Homo sapiens: one gene and its partner. The protein of the gene in region 1 binds, or shares a complex with, the protein of each later gene. Each region holds a gene or a part of one and is shown on either strand. Other genes may lie near its edges.

Evidence for each region.
Region 2: the proteins of SOS1 (region 1) and KRAS are in contact, whole or in part, in a crystal structure (PDB 8BE4), measured with the Homo sapiens proteins. Residues at the interface, in NP_005624.2 of Homo sapiens: Lys602, Trp809, Thr810, Lys814, Leu822, Met824, Ile825, Arg826, Thr828, Thr829, Thr832, Leu833, Leu872, Val875, Ser876, Asn879, Ser880, Ser881, Pro882, Tyr884, Ser908, Asp910, His911, Tyr912, Lys913, Phe929, Phe930, Gly931, Ile932, Leu934; in NP_001356715.1 of Homo sapiens: Ser17, Ala18, Ile21, Gln25, Asp30, Glu31, Tyr32, Pro34, Thr35, Glu37, Tyr40, Asp54, Ile55, Leu56, Asp57, Thr58, Ala59, Gly60, Gln61, Glu63, Tyr64, Ser65, Ala66, Met67, Arg68, Asp69, Gln70, Tyr71, Arg73, His95.

The regions. Positions count from the first base shown.
Region 1 is NC_000002.12:39,115,719-39,127,117, reverse strand, and holds the start of SOS1 (son of sevenless homolog 1), read left to right. Parts: upstream 1-6,066; 5' UTR 6,067-6,695; coding exon 6,696-6,782; exon of another isoform or gene 6,783-7,027; intron 7,028-11,399.
Region 2 is NC_000012.12:25,237,471-25,247,929, forward strand, and holds part of KRAS (GTPase KRas), read right to left. Parts: intron 7,926-10,459; 5' UTR 7,915-7,925; coding exon 7,804-7,914; intron 1-7,803. UniProt on the Homo sapiens protein: Ras proteins bind GDP/GTP and possess intrinsic GTPase activity. Plays an important role in the regulation of cell proliferation.

The DNA of each region.
Region 1 (11,399 bases):
CATAGCCAAGGCTGGGCACGGTGGCTCACGCCTGTAATCCCAGCACTTTGGGAGGCCAAGATGGGCAGATCACGAGGTCAGGAGTTTGAGACCACCCTGGCCAAGATAGTGAAACCCTGTCTCTACTAAAAATACAAAAATTAGCAGGGCATGGTGGCGTGCGCCTGTAGTCCCAGCTACTCGGGGGGCTGAAGCAGGAGAATTGCTTGAACCCAGGAGGCGGAGGTTGTGGTGAGCCAAGATTGTGCCACTGCACCCCAGCCTGGGCAACAGAGCAAGACTCTGTCTCAAAAAAAAAAGCAAGTAGCCAAAATGATGGTAAACTGCAAGCTCTTTCCTTATAGATTCAGAGCCACATCAATTTCTCCACATTTTTTAAAGAAATAAATCACTTTGGAAAATTACAGATATATTTCTATAATCAATAAATTTGAGGTATTTATATGGATTCATCATAATTAAAAATATTAGTTGTTATCCTATAAAACAATATACATATACAAATCAGTTGGGTCCCCTGGGAAGCAGATGCTGAGCTGGAGTTAAGAATGCAAAAGGTGGCCGGGCGCCGTGGCTCACGTCTGTAATCCCAACACTTTGGGATGCCGAGGTGGGCGGATCACGAGGTCAGGAGATGGAGACCATCCTGGCTAACACGGTGAAACCTCGTCTCTACTAAAAATACAAAAAATTAGCTGGGTGTGGTGGCGGGCGCCTGTAGTCCCAGCTACTCGGGAGGCTGAGGCAGGAGAATCGCTTGAACCTGGGACGCGGAGGTTGCAGTGAGCTGAGATCAGGCCACTGCACTCCAGCCTGGGCGACAGAGCCAGACTCCATCTCAACAACAACAACAACAACAACAACAACAACAACAACAACAACAAAAGATATTCCTTATTTTCTTCTCAGATTTTTTTTTTTTTTTGAGACGGAGTCTTGCTCTGTCATCCAGGCTGGACTGCAGTGGGGCGATCTCGACTCATTGCAAACTCCGCCTCCCGGGTTCAAGCAACTCTCCTGCCTCAGCCTGCCGAGTAGCTGAGATTACAGGCGCATGCGCCACCACGCCCGGCTAATTTTTTTGTATTTTTGGTAGAGACGGGGTTTCACCATGTGGGCCAGGATGGTCTCGATCTCTTGCCCTCATGCCTCGGCCTCCCAAAGTGCTGGGATTACAGGCCTCGGCCTCCCAAAGTGCTGGGATTACAGGCGTGAGCCACTGGCGCCCAGCCTTCTCAGAGTTTTATAATTTTGCTTTTTGCACTTTCTTCAATCCAATGGGATTGTTTTGCGTAGGGTGGGAGTTACAAGTATATTTTTTCTATGTGCATTTATCTATTGCACATTATTTCATTTATTGAACAGTATAGCCTTTACCTATTTATCTGCAATGCTTACGGTATCAGGTTTCTATATATTTGGCTGTCTACTGATCAATTGGTTTGTAGGTTCTTGTGCTAATATCCATTGTTTTAATTACTTTAGCTACGTAATCAGTTTTCACATCTGGTAAATCAAGTTCCCCTACCTTCTTCTTTTACAGGAGAATTAGCCTTTTGCTCTTTCATATACCTTTAAGAATGAGTTTGTCAAATTCCATGACAATCCCTGTTGGGAATTTCGTTAAAGTCACATTGCATTTGGATGTGATCAATTTGAGGAGCTATTACAACTTGAATCAACTGGAAAGAGACTTTTGCAAAAAGTCTTCTCTTCTCTCTTAGAAGATAAACTTGGGCATATCCTATAAGCTCCCTGCAGAAATCCCGAGAAAGAAGTGCGAGGAATAGTCCCATATGTCTTGGAGAACCTCTGATAATCTCTTCTAACTGTACCATCTTTGCAAAGGCAGGGATGGAAACAGAGAGGGAGGAAGAGGGCGGGGGACTCAAAGTATTAGCTAAAGGTGAGTAAAGAGTGGGCATCTAGTGTTCTTCTCAGTCACTATTTTCTCTGGTGTGTTTCCTGGAGATACATTTTTTGGAGGAGAGGAATTGAAAGGAGGCATTGGAAAGACAGAGGGTGAGGGAAAGACAGAGGGTGAATATGTTCTGGAGGAGAGAGTACCTTAACTGCTGATGGCTGAAACTGCTGTTCCTTCTACCTGTTCGGCTCTGAAGGAATCAGAGCCGAAAACAAAAAAAAAACTTTAGAGAGAAGGTAGCATTTGAGCTGAGGGCGCGCAGGGTGGATAAGAGTTCCAGCGCGAGCGTGTATCTGGGAGCTGGGGTGGGGCTGTGGTGGGCGGCATTAGAGAAAAAAGGCGACAGGCATTCTGAATAGCAGGAGACAGAGACAGAAGTGATGTGTTTGTAGGAGGCAAGAGCAGTTCATTTTGAGTGAGAGATACAGCTAGAAAGATAAGTAGCGGTCCGATTGTGCAAGGCCATGGATACCAGGTTAAGGACTTTGGAATTTATCCTGGGACGCCAGTGTGAGTTCTTGAACAGAAAAGTAAGTAGCTGGGTCCGAAGTTCGCGTCAGAAGGATCACTGTGGCTGCAGCAAGGCAGAGAACCAGGTGGCCGCGTCCTGGCCAGCAGGGCAGGCAAAGGCGCGGAGCGTTGCACTTGCACCTGCAGGGGGCACACTGAAGGGCCAAACGCCCACCCCCGCCCCCGTCCTCGCCGCCCTACTCCGATGCGCCGCGCTCGGAACTCGGCTAGCCCGCCTGGACGCGCCCCTCTCGGTCTTCGCCTATTCCGCCCGGACGCGCCTCGTGCGTCACGTCCGCCGTGGCGTGAGGCTCCTTAGAGCTGAGGAGGGAAGCGAAAAGAAGCCTCTGCGCCTGCGCCAGGGCGCACCCGTCGGCGGTAAAAGCTGAGGGGCTGGCGCGGGGGATTGGTGGGCGACACTTTTACGTCTACACGTGCCTACCCGTCTGCACGTTTCTGAGTCCGCACGGTTGTCTTCTCTTGCTGAATGGACATAGGTGTTTTGTTTTGTCCCAAGAGATACAGGCAAGCAGTACAGGGGTGATGGAGTGCTCCTTGACCTTAGCGGGGCTGACCCTGGCACTCCCTGTAGGTCTCCCCGCTGCGAAGCACTGAGTCTCTTCACTGCAGTTTCTCTCCAGTTACCCGCCCTGTCTACGGCCCAAACGGCCATGCTAGTGAAAACCTGCCCTGGCCGCTAAGCAAGCCTAGCCCAGGCTGTAACCCATGTTTCTAGGGCTTGTTTTCCTCTGCAGTCAAATCAGAGATTCGGAGTTGAAGGGGATCTTAGAGGTCAACATGCCCAACCTCTTAGCCCGAGTGAGTGAATGTACGCTTTTTACCTGCACACCCCGAAAATCGCCCGTTTTCTGGAAACAACGTTGATTATGTAGTCCTGGAACTTTCCTGCATGCACATTTTATTCCTTCGACAATATTTATTGCTACCTACTGTGTGCAGGCATTGTAGGCCCCGGGGATACGATTAAAACCAATGAAGAACGAAACGCACAAGATTGTTGATCTCGGCCGGGCGCGGTGGCTCACGCCTGTAGTCCCAGCACTTTGGGAGGCGGAGGTGGGTGGATTGCTTGAGGTCAGGAGTTCGAGACCAGCCTGGCCAACCTAGCGAAACCCCACCTCTACTAAAAATACAAAAATTGGCCGGGCTTGGTGGCGTGCGCCTGTAGTCCCAGCTACTCGGGAAGCTGAGGCAGGAAAATCACTTGAACCTGGGAAGTGGAGGTTGTAGTGAGCCAAGATTCCGCCTGCATTCTAGCCTGGGCAACAAAATGAGACTCTGTCTCAGAAAAAGAAAAAAAAAAAAAAAAGATTGTTTCTCTCTCTCTAGGAGTTTACATTTTATTTGGGGGCAGGAGGGAAACCAACAACCAAAAATAGAGGACTGATTTGATTTAGTGCTAGCAGGAAATAAAAAGAACATAAGGTAGAAATACACAGGTGAGAATTACTTGGAGTGATCGGAGAAGGCCTCTTGGAGGTGGTGATGTTTATAACCAGCCAAGGGAACAGTTAGGGGTTCTAGGCTGAGAGAAGAACAATGTTCTTTAGGCAGGTTGTTGTTTTCTAGGAATAGACAGAAGGCTACTGTGACTGGAGTGTGGTGAGGCGAGGTTGTGAATGGTGAGAAAACATTGAGAATGTGAGCAGGAGCCAGATGCACGCCTTTGTGGGGTACGGTAAGAAGTTTGAAATGTATTCTAAGAGCAATGGGAAGCCAAGCAATAGTTTGGGGTACAGGCTTGATGTTGGTTCATTTGGAACCATACAAACCAATCTCTTCCCCCATATCACAACCCTTTAAATATTTGAAGAGGGCTGACCGGGCGCGGTGGCTCAGGCTTGTAATCACAGCATTTTGGGAGGCCGAGGCGGGTGGATGACGAGGTCAGGAGTTCGAGACCAGCCTGGCCAATACAGTGAAACCCCATCTCTAATAAAAATACAAAAATTACCTGGGTGTGGTGGCAGGCGCCTATAATTCCAGCTTTCATTCCACACACTTTGAAAGTGGGGAGTTTTTCAAATGTAAACCAAGTATGTATATTTTTATTTTTTCAATAAAACAATAAAGATGGGTCTCGCCAGCCTGGTCTCAAACTCCTGAACTCAAATGGTCCGCCCACCTCGGCCTCCCAAAGTGCTGGGATTACAGGCGTGAGCCACTGCGCCCGGCCGGTCTGTGTGTATGTGTGTGTGTGTGTGTGTGTGTGTGTATATTTTTTTTTGAATTGAAACGGAGTTTTGGTTTTGTTGCCCAGGCTGGAGTGCAGTGGCATGATCCCGGCTCACTGCAACCTCTGCCTCCTGGGTTCAAGCGATTCTCCTGCCTCAGCCTCCCAAGTAGCTGGGATTACAGGCGCCCACCACCATGCTCGGCTAATTTTTGTATTTCTTATGGAGACAGGTTTTCACAGTGTTGGCCAGGCTAGTCTGGAACTCCTGACCTCAGGTGATCCATCCGCCTCGGCCTCCTAAAGTGCTGGGATTACAGGCATGAGCCACCTCGCCTGGCCGGCCTGTGTATTTTTAAAGGAAATAACCTAAGAGTTGTTTTTCCAGATTTTCAAAGAGGTCCTGTAAAGATTAAGAACCACTGAACCTTTCTCGTTTATGTGATCCTGGTTACTGTTCTCAGGAATAGCAGGACACAATGTCAGCTTTAACCCAGGCTAGTTCCTCTAAACTGCCTTCTTATCGGTGAAATGAAAATAATAGGGTTGCTATGGGGATTAAATGAGATGATACTCAAAAAAATGATAATTAATGATAAATCATAAGGTGTCTGCCACAAAGTGCCCCTATTATAAACAAACAGTGGCCTGGAGGGACAGTTTATAAATACTGCTCCTTTAGCATTCCACTAACATTGACTGAGTGCCTGTTCTACACTGTGTAGAGGCCCTGGTGAAAAAGATCTGCCTTCCAGTTTATTATCTAGTCGAAAGAACCGCAAAAGATAACAAAACACAATAGACTGAACGCCCTGAGAGGGGCATAAGTGCAGTGCTCTAGGAGCTGTAAAAGAGGTCTCGATATCCACTGGAGGAAAGTGCTTACTGGAGTTCATTTCTGGAGTGGGTTTAAAAGATGAACAGAGGGAATCTAAAACATTCACACAAAATCAATACTACACGTACACATTTTATTATTTTGTGGAAAGACCACTTAGAAACACCGCAATCACTTCTACTACTCAGCAGATACTGAGCAGTAGGTTTCGTGACAGAGCACCTGTCTTTTGTCCAGTCTGTTTACTATACATTGCGTGCTCTGGGCAGTCCTTATCTTCGTGTTCAGGAACAAAGTACACACACCCCTTTCCGAAACGAAGGGCCCAGGGACTCCGAGAAGGGTGGGAGCCCTCACGGCCAGGCCACACAATGGGGAGCCTCTTTACCCTAGTCATCACCCACCCTTGCAGGCCCCACTTTGCCAGGGTGCGACTTCTCGGGCCCCTTCGCCCCTCCCCTGCAGCCCCCAGGAGCGCAGCCACAGCCCGGCCGGGCGCCCTCCCTGTCTCTCTCTCTCTTTCTCTCTCGAGCTTTCCTCCTCCTTCACCGGGAGCCGGAAAACCCGGAGCGAACCAGCCCAGCACGGCAGCGCATGCTCAGTAGCGAGCAGGTTCAGTTCGCTAGTAGGAAGCTCCAGCGCTACACCGGCGGCGGCGGTGGCGGCGGCGGCCGCGGCGGCACCTCAGGGCAGCCAGATTCCCCAACAACGACCTCCGGTCCTTCCCCTTCCCCGCGAGACCTCCGCCCCAGCTCCGCCCCGCCCGGGGCTCTTGCGTTTCGGAGTCCCAACTACGCGGAGCGGGCGCCGCGGCCGGAGCGTCCCTCCACACGTCCTCCCCCAGCCGCCAGCTCCGCCGCGGGGCCAGACCGGGCCCGGGAGTGCAGCCCCGGCGGGCGGGCGGCGGCCGCGGCAGAGGGCAGCCCGGGGCGGCGCCGGCGGGCCGGGGAGGGGCGGGGGGCCTGGCCCCGGGGCGGTGGTGCGGGATGCCGCCGCCTCCGGGCCGCGTCCGTTCTCCACGGCTGGTACCTGTGTCGGGTGGGTGGCCAGGCGCGGGCCTCGCCCCCCAGCCCCCTCGCCAGGGCTAGCCCGGCTGCGCGGCGCCCGGAGGGGGCCGGGCCGTCCGGTGGGGCCGCGGCCCTGTTCCGCGCTGCGAGCTCGCCCTCTCGCGGCTCCCTGGCCCGGCCGCCGCCGCCCCTCTCCCCGCCCAGAGGCGCCCCGGGGGCACCATGCAGGCGCAGCAGCTGCCCTACGAGTTTTTCAGCGAAGAGAACGCGCCCAAGTGGCGGGGACTACTGGTGCCTGCGCTGAAAAAGGTGAGGAGCACGCGGGACCCCGCTTCCCGGCCGCAGCCCCCCAGCGCGGGCGCTGGGGAAGGGCTGGGGAGGCGGGGCGCGCGCAGGGCCGTCTTTCTTCCCGGTCTCGCCGCGTCTCCAAAAGGACGGCGCACACGGAGAGGCCCCCCTCATACGGCTGGCTCTCGGTGTTGACATCCACCGGGTGTGTGGGAATGCCGCAGGGAGCCGGGGGGAGTTTATCCGGATAATCCAACCCCTGAGAGGTGAATGCTTTGCCCTTTGATTCCAGGACAACAACAGTTGGAGGAGCCTCAGTTTTCAGCGGAGGTCAAAGCAGGCCACTTTTCCGTCTTCTTGGTCTTAGCCCGGAGCTGCTGTCAGCCTACCGTTTTAGGTGTCCAGTACGCTGGTTTTAGTGGCTTGAGAATGCCCTGGCCGTAAGGCTTGCTCAAAGGAATTGCGAGCTCGCCTGCCAGTAGGAACGTGGCCTGCTCTGCTCGCCGTCAGTATTCACTCCTCATTCTCCTGGTTTCCCCCGCTCCTCCGATTAACAGGGGCTGGTGCACATGCTACCAATTTCAGGGGGGTTTTGTTTTGTTTTTGCAGCGTTCGAGATTCTTGGTGCTGTCATTTGGCTTGTTAAGAATTTTTAGCCTTTGTATGTTTAAGTTTGCTACATTGTTACCTGAAGTTACATACCCCCGATCTGTGCTTTTAAATGTTTTAGTATAATTAGGAAGTGTTCTTACGTTTTTAAAGCTTCTAAAGCAGCAGTGTGACAACCAGACTATTTTTGTTTTCTTTTCTTCATTTACCTTTTCTGTAAAGATTGCTTTACTCTTCTAATAGTGTTTCTAAATCCCAGTTTCTTGCTGCTCAAAGAATGTTTCATGCTAACTGCTTCTACTAAGAATGGAGATTATGTTTTACCTTTTATGCTAAACATTAAAAGGTGTCTGATATTTCTCAAAGGCCAGTAACTTTTACTTTCCCTTTTGCCCTGTTCTCCTCCGGTCCCTCTTGCTGTCTTACAGTGGAAACTATTTGGTTTTTCAGGAGAATTTGCTCATATATTTCTGGCTTAAATTACGGACATTTTCCCCTTCAAGTGTCTGACTAGTCACAAACATCTATGTAATTTTTTTTAAAAAACAGAAGAAAAGATGCCATATATCTTACATACTTTACTCCTTAGAAATCCCTTCAGGCTCTCACTCCTTACTTTTGCTTTACTTGCAAGTTTGACTTCTTAGCTTGTAATGGAAGGGGTGTAGGAGGTCTCTGTGATGCTAGAAGCTGGTGTCCGGATAGAGTAAGGGGAGACACGGAAATTGTTTAAAAACGTGTAAAGGAACTCATAAAGCATTGCCAAATAGGGGCCATTTTGCTTAGAGGCAAAAGCAGCTCCTTTCCCAGGGGAATCACCAAGGTATCAGCTGAGGATCCTTTGAAGCAGTGGAAAGAATATTGTAGGAGTTGACAGACGTTGTTTAATTCTGCCACACTGGTGGCCCTTGCTGAAATCTGTCCACAAAAGCATTTTGTTTGGCTGGCATAGTGTTGTTTTATTTTTAAATGTAATTAGTTGCTAATATTTGAAAATGGGAGATATTACATAAAACCTGAATTTTCGGCTTTTCTTGAAGAATAGGAAGGTCTTGTCATTTAGGGCCTGTATTCAAGCGAGGCACTAAACTGCTGGAGTTGAGTAAATGGCTCCCTTCTTTAGACAGGTCATGTATCTCCACCTTACCACAGCCCCCACTTGTCCTTTTTGCATATTTACATAAAACAGCTTTTGACTTTAAGTTAGAGATACTTTTGCAGTAGAAGTGATAGGAGGAGGTGGAAGTGTACATAATCTAGCTGATATGTAAGGTTCTTCCAATTCTTATTTAAATAGCCACTAACAATGATTCTAAACAAGATTGAAAATACAGTATGTTTCATATCTGGATATGCTGTTGGTAGCTCAAAACCTACGTTTTTACTTGCCTGCTGGACATTTCATGTGGATATCTCCATATCTTGATTTCTTCCTTTGATTTGTTATTGAATTATTCGTAGATACATCCGACTTGTGTTCTCTTACTCTTACCTGAGGCTCTTTGGATATGCTAGTCCCTTCATCCTTCTTTGCCTGGTCCAACACTACTCATCCTTCTAGACTCACTCAACCTGAACTGTCAAATCATCAGGGCTGAGTTGGATATTACTCCTTTGTTTTCTTTTTGCACCCTGTCCTAGCTCTGTGAATTTTAAGTTCCTATTTACTTGCCTATAACTAGATTGGATGCTCCTTGAGAACAGGGATGATATCTTACCCACATTTTATTCCCCATACTTATAGTGCTTGACATCTGGTAGGCACTCAATTTGAATAAATAGGTGAGGGGATATACAAACTAAAACTATCACTTCTCTCCTCCACCTGTCATTTCAGTTTTTCTTCTCGATTAATGGCTTTATTGTTACATTTGACTGGTTTAAAATGTTGGGGTCATCTCTGGCTTCTTTGTATTACTGTGCACACTCAGGTAGAGCCTGTATGTTCATTTCCCTTTGACATGTTCTTCTAGTCTATTCCTCCTCCGACTTCTCTAATTGAGTCTCCTTTGTCAGACTACTGTGATAACTTCTTAATGGGGTTCACTGGCCCCCACCTCACCTTCTGTTTTTCAAATCTCACCAGTTATAGGACACTTCTGAACATGTCACACTCAGAATTGTTGATGTCTTTTGAGTTCAACCTATGCTAAAGTGCACTTTTTAGCATAGAATTAACAGCAATTGATATTTGGCTTCATCCTGCTTTTCTGACTGGATTGTCTACCATAACCTTTTATCTCCTTTTTGCTTTAGCCAGTCCGGACTGCTACTTTTCCTGAATATGGCTGGAATGTCCCACTGTATCTGTTTCACCGCATCTATGAGTCTAAGTCCTATCTTATCTATTGCACAAATATATCATGCCTACTATAGACCAGGTATTGCCCTTGACACTCAGGCTAAAAAGGTAAATGACAGGGCCGGGCGCAGTGGCTCACGCCTGTAATCCAGCACTTTGGGAGAGCAAGGTGGGCGGATCACGAGGTCAGGAATTCAAGACCAGCCTGGCCAACGTGGTGAAACCCCATCTCTACTAAAAAATACAAAAATTAGCCTGGCGTGGTGGTGGGCACCTGTAATCCCAGCTACTCGGGAGGCTGAGGCAGGAGAATAGCTTGAAACCGGAAGACGGAGGTTGCAGTGGGGCGAGATTGCACCACTGCACTCCAACCTGGGCAACAAGAGCAAAACTCTGTCTCAAAAAAAAAAAAAAAAAGTAAATGACATAATCAGAAAAGACTAAATTAGAACATGATGGGAAGTGGCAGGGCATGTCTGGAGAGACAACTGGTTTATGAACAGTTTTTATATATGTTAAGCTAAGGAATTTAAATTTTTTCTTGGGTAATTAGAAGCCATTGATAAAGTTTCTTTTGTTTGTTTTTGTTTTGTTTGTTTGTTTTGAGACAGAGTCTTAACAGGCTGGAGTGCAGTGGTGCGATCTTGGCTCACTGCAGCCTCCACCTCCTGGGCTTAAGCTATCCTCCCACCTCAGCCTCCTGAGACTGTAGGCACACTGCCACATCCAGATAATTTTTGTATTTTTTGTAGAGATGGGGTTTCACCAGGCTGGTCTTGAACTCCTGGGCTCAAGCCATCTGCCTGCCTCAGCTTCCCAAAGTGCTAGGATTACAGGGTGAGCCACTGTGCCCAGCCAATAAGTTTTAAGTAGGGGAGTAACAGCACATTTTAATTTTAGAAAATTCACTTTGGCCATAGAATGGAAAATGGTTTGGAGAAGAATGAGACGTAAAGTGAGGAGAAAAGTTAGAAGCCTAGTTTAATAGTCCAGTCAAGAGATAATACACATTTGAACTAAGGGTGCATTTGAACAAGGATGGAAATATGGATGTGGATTTTATTTGAAAGAAGTTTACAAGGCAAAATTGACAGGATCTAGTAACTCACTGAGTGATTGGGGGAATGGTAATGGAACAGGAATAGTCTTGTTTCTGACTTGATTGTCTTTAGTCAGGATAGAGAATGTAGGAGAAGCTCTTAGGATGGAGAGAGGAGTGGCATAATAAGATGATTTTTGGAAATGTTGACTTAAAAGTTTGGGTTATTCAAGTGAACTTCTCCAACTGGCTATTGGTTGTTGGTATCTGATTAAGCAGATTTGGAACTTCTAGATGTGTAAGTAAAGCCATAAATATAGATGAAGCCTCTACAAAGACTTATACATGAATGTTCATGGCAGCTGTTTTCAGTCAAAAACTGGAAACAATCCAATGTTCGTCAGCAGGTGAATGAATAAGCAAATTGTGATACAAACAGTGGAATACTATTGGTTGTTGGTATCTGATGAAGCAGATTTGGAACTTCTAGATGTGTAAGTAAAGCCATAAATATAGATGAAGCTTATACAAAGACTTATACATGAATGTTCATGGCATCTCTTTTCAGTCAAAAACTGGAAAAAATCCAATGTTCGTCAACAGGTGAATGAATAAGCAAATTGTGATACAAACAGTGGAATACTACTCAGCAATAAAAAGGAACAAACTGGCTGGGTGTGGTGGCTCA
Region 2 (10,459 bases), on another chromosome or scaffold:
GGCATGTTGAATTCCCTGTACTCATGGGTTGTCCTGGTGGATATGACCTGCAGGCATCTTGATATACATACATGTCTGGTGCTCAGGACAGAAGTCCAGGCTAGAGATAGACTTGGGAGTCTTCGATCCATGGACAGCCGAAGAACTTCACTTATTTGTGCTATGGGCTTGGGCAAACTACTTTATCTCACATCTTCTCTAAGCTATTGTTCCTTCAGCTGTGAAAGTAGGTAAAACTGCATACAGGACTTTATACATAGATTAATATTAAAGACCATGAAAATCTCTTTATAAAATGAAAAGTGCTATAAAAAGTTAACTGCATTATTTTATATACTACACGCAGGCCAAAAAGTAGGGGCAGGCCACTGGCTACTGAGAACTGTTCAGAAACAGTATCTTCTCCTTACAAAATCACTGGGCACCTACAGTTGAAATAATTTTGCAAAACTGGTCACCATATTTCAAAATAAATATAATGGAGCTGGACAAATCACAGGGAAGGATAGCTACAACTGAAGGCTATGAAGGATTTCTGTTTTGATTAGGGAGTGAAGATGTTAAAGAGCTTATTTTCATGGCAGAATTTTCAATTAAAAACTAAGACATTCACTAAAAGTAAGGATAAAGAAAACAAAGACTTCTTTACTAAATGCTGGATACTTAAAATTATAAGAATGGTGAACATTAGCTTAGTACTAGAGAGAATTAAGTGTGTACTACTCCCAAGAGAAAAAACTAGTTCAAAAATCTGAATGAACTCAAGGAAAATTTATATGACAAATTTTGAAAATAACGATATAATGAGCATACATGTGTAACCTGTTCAAGTCAGATGGCATTTGCCCACAAGTGATCACTTGAAGTCCAGGTAAGAATGAGAGGCTGGAATGACCGTGGATCCAATCTTAATGCCAATATAATGTTCATATTTTATATTATATACCTCTCATATTATTTATTTAGCCTTAATAGCAATTTCCTTAATCCAAGACTACATGTGAATTATGTAATTTATTGAGGCTTGAAAAATAAGCATGAAATAATCTAACGGTATCTGAAACTTTAGTGCCCTTTTCTCTCTCCAAAACGAGTATTTACTTTTCCCCCAGCCCAATGGTATAAGCTTATTTTAAAAAACTAAAACACAACAAAGGATGAGGGAGTAATTTTGTTTCTAGATGAAATCATACTCAACACAAGGTGCTGTGACCCAGCTTCACTTACATAATGGACATTTTTGAACATCAGTATATCTAAATCTACCTAATATTTCCAACAACTATGTAATTTGTATATATGGACATACCATAATTTATTCACCCATTCTCTATTGGTAGACATGAAGATGATTTCCATTTTTTTAAAATCATAAACAACACTGCAGTAAACATTCTTATATATACATCTTAAACATTTATCCAATTAAATCCTTGGATAAATTTCAAGAAGTTGAATTACCTGGTCAAAGGACATGTAGTTTACATTTTGAAACATATTTCCAGACTGACCTCCATAAAGTCTGAGGGTCTATACTCCCACTACAGTGCAAGGCGCACACTTCTCCATACCCTTCCTAGCAGTTATCATTTTAACCTTAGCCAATATGAAAGTACAGAAATGTTATTTATTGTTTGAACTTGCATCACATTCATGAAGTAAGTGTCTTTTTATATGTTCATGTTATTTATTTTATTTCTTTTTTGGTAGACAAGCTATTTATATCTTTAGTACCCCCCATCCCTTTTTTTCTATTTGTGTGTTTGCTTTTCTCTAATTCATATATAAGATAGCTTCCTGTTACTTGAACCAAATGGTTTTTCTAGGTTTTCATTTGTCTTCTATCTTTGTTAAAGAAAACTTAATTTTTATGCAGCCAGATAGCTCAGTTTTTTCCCAAATGTTTGCCTTAATGGTTTAAGGATACTCTGATGATGAGAAAGGAGTCTCACTTTTCTCAAGGGTGAAAAATATTTATCCAAATTCCACAAATAAGGAAACCTAAAGTTAAATCACTCAATCTATGTTACTTAGATAACACTGCAAGATCCATAATTTAAGAATGACATTATCATTTTTATTTCACAAGTGTATAGTTTAGCATTAAAATTTACACAAGGAGAAACAGGGTAGAACCAGGGTTCTCACTGCGGGAGAAAGAAGGTGAAAAATAGTTAACTCTTGATTTCTTAGTAACATGCATTTCTAAGCTCTGTGCCTTGAAAACGGTCTAGAAGCAGTGACACTGCTGAGGCGGGCAGATCACGAGGTCAGGAGTTCGAGACTAGCCTGGCCAACATGGTGAAACCCCGTCTCTACTAAAAATACAAAAAGTAATTGGGTGTGGTGGTGCATGCCTGTAATACCAGCTACCCAGGAGGCTGAGGCAGGAGAATGGCTGGAACCCAGGAGGTGGAGGCTGCAGTGAGCCAAGATCGCGCCACTGCACTCCAGCCTGGGCAACAGAGCGAGACTCCATCTCAAAAACAAAAAAAAAAATTAATAGAAATAGTGAAAATAAAATATTTGAAAGGATTAAGGAGGGACACACTACCTACCTTACTTTTTTCAATGTTTTATTTTGAAAAAATTTCAAACCTATAGAAAAGTAGTAAAAAATAGTACAGCGAATAGCCTCAGCCTCCCAAAGTGCTAAGATTACAGGCATGAGCCACCATATCTGGCTTATTTCTACTAATTTCTATATTAAGATCCCAATAATTTAACTGTTCCATAACCTACACATTATGAAATAATAATGGTTAAGAGACGCCAGAAATGTAATGCTCTTAAGTATAAAGCCTCTAAATTAAGTCATATATAATTAGCATGATTGCCTAGAAACACTGCTCTTCAAAATAAAGTGGGCCATCCATATCCATGGGTACTGCATCTACAGATTCAACCAATTATGGATAAAAGATATTCTGAGGAAAAAAATCCATGAAGTTCCGAAAAGTAAAACTTGAATTTGCCATGTACTGAGTACTACGTTGAACCCACATGAATGAACTGATGTGCAGGCATTGTAATAGGTATTACAAGAAATCTAGAGATACCTAAAACTAATAAGCTCCATGAAGGCAGGAATCTGGTCTGTTTTGCGCCTCAGTGTATCTCTAGCCCACAGGAAGACTGCATGGTACAAAGTGGGCAGTGAAGAACATTTCTAGGATTAAGGAATTAGTTGTATTGTTAAAACCAGAATCTTAGGAGATTCCAAACCATAAAATCATTTTTTCCTTTCACTTAATTCCATTACCAACTTCCATTTGTATGTTTTTAAATCTTTGGATTTATAAAAACCCAAGGTAGAAAAAAACCATGACCAGTAAAGTTTTATATTCAGGTCTTAATAAATACTTATTCTTAATTTGACCTAAATACAGTACCTGAGTTTTCTGTTTATTCTAAAAATCAGGTGCTCACAACTATTCTACAGTCCTATAAAACTCTACAAAATGTGCACTTTCACAATTTGCCACTTCTGAATAGGACCCTCCTATCATCCCCTGTAACACACCACCAAGCCTTGGACTCCATTAAGCAGCTCCTGAGTGCATGCAAAGAAGCTCAGAGAGCCACACTGCTGCCTTTTAGTCCCTTCAACAAAGTAAGCTCAGTAAGTGTTAACAACTGAACCACCCTATTTTCTTATATACTGCCTCGTTTCCTTTCTTAGTTCACTATACTCACCTACTTAGTTAGGCCTAACTAATACAGACAGTAATCTTTATATTAATATTAGCAGAGAGCAAAAATGATACGAAATCAATCATATAAGACTTTTAAATAAAACGAATATATTTATAAATTGATGCCACCCATAATTTAAACAGCGAAACTACACAAACTTAGGATTTCACTGTTACTTGTTATAAAGCAAATAATTTGACCAGTAGAGGGCACTCACAAAAGTGGGGAGAGCTTCACAGCCTTGAAGAGAAATGATTTATAAAATTGCTGTGTGTCTCTGATTTTAAAAACAGAATGTTTTAATAGAAGACTGGAGTAAGCTAACATATCATTAACGTACAAAAGTTAAAGTTTAAATCTTTGTTATACTTGAAAATCTAACATAAACCTTATGTCAGGGACATGAATTTGACAATTTAAAGGATGTTTAAAGCTACAGGTTAACATATCAAGGTTTGGATCTTAACACCATTGAGGTTTGGGGTCAGATAACCCTGTTGTGGGGGCTTTCCCGTGCACTGCAGGAAGTTTAATATTAGGTTGGTGCAAAGGTAACTGCAGCTTTGCCATTTAAAGTAATAGCATCTACTCAATAGATGCCAGTAGCAGTACTCTCTCCCCAAGTTGTGGCAACCAAAAACATCTCCAGATGTTGCCAAATGTCCCCTGGAGGGCAGTCACCCAACCATCCCTCATTGATTACTAAAGATATATGTATAAACTCAGAAGAATAGCAGCTTACAAATTACATAAGGCTTTTCTTATACCAGTCTTCAGTATCAGTTTAATTTTACAAATTTTCTCTCTATAATCTACATACTTCATTCGTAGGTAAAATGAATTCTACAATGAACATGGAAAAATAAAAATAAAATAAAAATTAAAATAAACCTTGGTAAATAAATACTCTACAGCTCAGAACACTAAAGATGAAACAAACCAATCCAATGATTAATCTGGTCTTCCTTACTGAATAGGAAACTGTTCCATCAAAGAGGGGCATAATACTTGAACTGAATTATAAGTGCCACAATAAAAGCATGCTGATGTCAAACAATTAGAGCCTGGGAAAAAATACTTCCTGCTATATTTATTCTTACTAGCATATTATATACAGTAGATACTTAATATATATTTGGTAAGTGATCAACTAATCATTCTGATCTCTGTAACTACCTACATTTTTTTAAAACGAGACTTTTCCTCTTCCACCAAATTTTACCTTAGAAAAAAAACTTCAGGGTTTTGATAATAAATGATCTCTGAACTATAAAGGTATATATTTCTAGCCAAGTATTGTGTTTGGGGGCTATTTTGAGTTTTCAATAATCTTGCCCTAATAACGAGGTATTTCATTATCTCTTTAGTGGGCTTCATAAAAGATAACAATATATACTTCACAATACAAGTAAAGGTGATTATGTGCACAGCCTCGAATACAAACATACTCCATCTATGTGTCATACCTGAATGATTTTACATCATACCTCTGCCACTAAGTTGCCATTAGATAGCAGGCTAAGTTCAAATTTTGGTATACTTACAAATCTGAATTAGTCTCCATTAGTAAATATTTTCTTAATTTGAAAGATAGCTAATTTTCAGTTTTAAAAAGTTATACAAGAGTACAGTGCAAATTCTACTTAACTTGGTCTCAGAGAATTTAAATTGAAATCCTACCACTTATTAGCTACGTATCCTTAGATGAGTTACAACCTCTCAGAGACATTATTGAAAGAAACAATAGCCACCCTCCTTACTATCTCTTAGTGTAAATTTTGAAAAATCTAAATCACCAAAAAATACAGTATTACTTGATTTAAATTTTTAAAAAATTTATTTCCATTTTAAATGTAGAAAAACTGCTAATAATTCCAAAATGTGCAGTCATATCCTTTCTAATTTTCTCTCTGACCCACACGGATTGGTAAATACCAATCAAAACCTGCAATGGCAGTGAAATCCCCATATCCTCCTAAATTTTTAACTTTTTACAATAACATGGAGTCAGCATTTCCATTTAACCAACTATTTAACTACTAAGTTCTCCTGCCTTTCTTACAGTTTAACTACACCAAGAACTTAATGTAATGTGTCAGTTCCCTCAGAGACTCACTGTAACTTGGGAGATAAGAGATAATCTCAGATACCTTTTCCCAGGTGACTAAACTACGTCAGGGACCGTCAGTTTCAAAGTTCACAGGTAACCAATGCTTCCCAGAGTCAAGTCTTCTGGTTTGGCAGAAATCATAAGCAGAGTTATAGGTTTAAGTTTATAAACTTTTTCAGCCTTCCGCCCAAATAAAGGCTTAACTGTTAGCTTTATTTCTTCAACATTTATATTGCATTTTAACAATCATTAGCAAAAGGTTTCCTAACCCACTTTATCACATTCATGACGTCATGCTGTATATACTCATATAGCACTCATGACCTCTGATTGGAAACAAAGTGTAATGGAATTTCTCAGATTTTCAGGGAAGACAGACAGCATTTCCAGTAAAATCACCTTCCAAAATCCCAGGAAAACTTTCAGGCATAAAGTGAATTATATTAAAACTTCCTTTTACATCTGATTTAAATAGTAGAGTCTGCCAAGTAACCCTGAATTTGCAATACAGATTAAAATGGGTGCACTATTCAAACCTCTTCAAAGAAACAAAACTATAGTACACATTGAATTAACTTGTCAAAAGTAAATATACAGAGACTATTGCATAGGCAGTCTACTTCAATTAGACTGTTCCCCTTTACTGCTGTAAATTCTTAAAATTGGAAGCCAAATAAAGTTGTTTCTATGTTTAAATCAAATCTTTGCAAATAGGCATTATTTCTCCACTTTTTTATAGTACCAAAAATATGTGACGTTTCCTTATGATTAGTTATCTAATCAATTCTCCAGGTTCTAAACTGCATAAATATCTTCCCAAGGCCACCCAATGCCCTCAGAACTTGCCTCAGCGCAAAGTGTCTCTTCAAGACACTACACAGTACAGTACGTTAATAAGGCACTTTGACCTGTTCTAGATTTCACAGCTTGGAACTTGAAGAAAGTTCTTAGAAATTTTTCAGAACTGATTTTTTTAAATTAGTACACTAGATGTAGAATAAATGCTAAAGTATTAGGACTGCTTAACCCAGGGTAAAGAAGCCTAAGAAACAATCTAACAATATAGGGCTATTTCAAAGACAAGGCGATATGCTTATTTTCCATCTCCACTGATGTTAAATTTAACATGAAGATCCAAATTACATGTAAAATATGCTAATAAATATGTTCTGAAAATGAGTTAACAAGGACAGTTGGGGAATGTCCCCTCCTGGAGGTCTTTGAGATTAAATAAATCCTCATCTGCTTGGGATGGAAGTTCTACTCCATGACCTTCAAGGTGTCTTACAGGTCTTTACTTATCATTCTGCTGCTGGTCTTTACTTTGGTAAATTTTCATTAAACTAAAAAAATCTGAAAATAATCCTCAAAAACATGATAACAATTTAAATTTACTCAAGGAATTTTTTTTTAAATCCTAGTATTTCCTTGAGTAAATTTAAAAATGACAACAAAGCAAAGGTAAAGTTGGTAATAGTACCTTTATATAAACCACACCTTAGGCAAATAATTCATTTTGTAAAATTTATCCGGTAGTTGTAGGTTCTCTAATGTTGAGAAGAAGATAGGAAAATACTGCTGATGAAGTTTAAAAAAATCAACCATCAAACAATTATATTTCACTAGTACAATTAAATCTAACCTTTACATATGATGTCACAATACCAAGAAACCCATAAAAATAAAAGTTACAATAAAAAGATTGTCTTTTAGGTCCAGATAGGATACAAATTTCTACCCTCTCACGAAACTCTGAAATACACTTCCAATCAAAATGCACAGAGAGTGAACATCATGGACCCTGACATACTCCCAAGGAAAGTAAAGTTCCCATATTAATGGTTACATATAACTTGAAACCCAAGGTACATTTCAGATAACTTAACTTTCAGCATAATTATCTTGTAATAAGTACTCATGAAAATGGTCAGAGAAACCTTTATCTGTATCAAAGAATGGTCCTGCACCAGTAATATGCATATTAAAACAAGATTTACCTCTATTGTTGGATCATATTCGTCCACAAAATGATTCTGAATTAGCTGTATCGTCAAGGCACTCTTGCCTACGCCACCAGCTCCAACTACCACAAGTTTATATTCAGTCATTTTCAGCAGGCCTTATAATAAAAATAATGAAAATGTGACTATATTAGAACATGTCACACATAAGGTTAATACACTATCAAATACTCCACCAGTACCTTTTAATACAAACTCACCTTTATATGAAAAATTATTTCAAAATACCTTACAAAATTCAATCATGAAAATTCCAGTTGACTGCAGACGTGTATCGTAATGAACTGTACTTCATTTACAAACTCCTCCATCGACGCTTAAGAAAAATGCATAAATGCTACATAGACAGTTCTTTTATCTTAAAATCAAGTTGTTCTATCTAAATAGCCAGACTGCTGTTCTGCGGCGGCTAAAGGCTCTCAAAGGATCATATCATGACTTCACTCATGTAGAGACTTCACAGTGCTCTACACCCTGTAGCACACCCTCACAAAAGTTGCTGACAGCTATCTCCACTCTTATTGTTACAGTTTTCCTAGTGGACCCCCACCTCTAAGTGTTAGAAGTCAATATGCAACAGCTACAGAAAAACTTTTAAAGCATCATGGCAGTAGTTCTCTTGGATAAATATTAACAGTAAGAATCAGATGAGAGTTGAGAGAATGAGTGTCAAATAAAGCTGGATTGTGTCATGGGGAAATAAAAATTTAAACACTGAGGCAAAGAAGAACAATATTTGACGACATTTTAATGTGTGAAATATCTCTGGGGAAAATAGGAGTCCGAGGTTGCAATGAGCCGAGATGGCGCCACTGCACTCCAGCCTGGCGATAGAGCAAGACTCCGTCTCAAAAAAAAAAAAAAAAAAAAAAATCTCTGGGGAAAATAAAGCTAAAAACCAAGAGAACTCCGAATTAACTGTTCAGTACAATACATAATCCTGTATCACCGCTGCACAAAAAAAGATAAAGATTAGAAAGCCGGGTGCGGCGGCTCATGCCTGTAATCCCAGCACTTTCAGAGGCCAAGGCGGGTGGATCACCTGAGGCCAGGAGTTCAAGACCAGCCTGGCCAATATGGTGAAACCCTCTCTCTACTAAAAATACAAAAATTAATCAGGCGTGGTGGCGCTCTCCTGTAGTCCTAGCTACTGGGGAGGCTGAGGAAGGAGAATCACTTGAACCCGGGAGGCAGAGGTTGCAGTGAGCCCAGATCACGCCACTGCACTCCAGATTGGGTGACGGAGTAAGACTCCATCTCAAAACAAACAAACAAACAAAAAGATTAGAGATAAACACTGTTTTTAGTAAGAAAACAGCTGTTAAGAGATGCAAGTGAGCCGGGCACGGTGGCTCACGCCTATAATCCTAGCACTTTGGGAGGCCGAGGAGGGTGGATCACGAGGTCAGGAGATCAAGACCATCCTGGCTAACCCGGTGAAACCCCGTCTCTACTAAAAATATAAAAAAATTAGCCGGGCGTGGTGGCGGGCGCCTGTAGTCCCAGCTACTTGGGAGGCTGAGGCAGAAGAATGGCGTGAACCCAGGAGGCGGAGCTTGCAGTGAGCCGAGATCACGCCACTGCACTCCAGCCTGGGCGACAGAGCCACTCCGTCTCAAAAAAAAAAAAAGATGCAAGTGAATATATCTCAGTAATCAGTAATCCATGTGACTGTTACTCTTTGCTTTTCATACACTGTCTCCCAAGAGGTGCATGAATATTGACAGATTGTATAACAAACACCATACAGAAAATAAAACATATTTTTTAGTTAGTTGTTTCAAATTTTTTGAAATAATATGAATGTTTAATTTCACCTCCTTTCCCTCATGTAACACATAATTATAAATAAGGAGAGAAATGCAGAAAAAAATGGGAGTAAATGCACAACTATTTATTATAGGATGAGTAGCTCCAAATTAATGAATGTGCATATATTGTAGATAAACACTAAATATACACAGCATCATAATTGACTGAAGACCCAAAATAATAATTTGGTTTCCCAAATGATAACATACTAACCTTACTCCTAAGCCCTGCCGCAAAAAGCACCACAGGCTAGAAAAATTGTATCACACACGGTCACGGCATAGTTCCCCGCCTTACTCTGCTCTACCTAGACTTATTGGCTGCTTGTCTAGGGTGAAGTTAACAACCACTACAAACATGTATCTTATCCCGTTTGCCTCCACGCTTTATTTCAAATGTAGGCCAAAGCAATTAGGAATAGATGAGGAGAATTACACTAAAATGTATCTTCTAGCTCTCTGCCTACCCCAACCTCCCCCCAACCAGTTTGCATAGCCTAAAACAGTTCTCAAAATGTGGTCTAGGAACCCCTCAGGTTACTAAGACTTTTCTGGTGTGCAAGAGGTCAAAACTGTTTTCATAATAACATTAAGATGTCCTTTACCCTTTTAACTCCCATTCTTTCACAAGTTTTCCAGATGTGTGATCATAATAGATTGAATGCAGATGCAGATATAAGAATCCATATCTTCTATTAAGCCACATCATTAAAGAGATTTACTGAAGTGTGAAACAATACCACTTTTCTAAGTTTTGGTTTTGTTTTGGAAAATAGTTATTTTTCATAAAATATTTTATTCATGTTACCAAGTAATGGGCT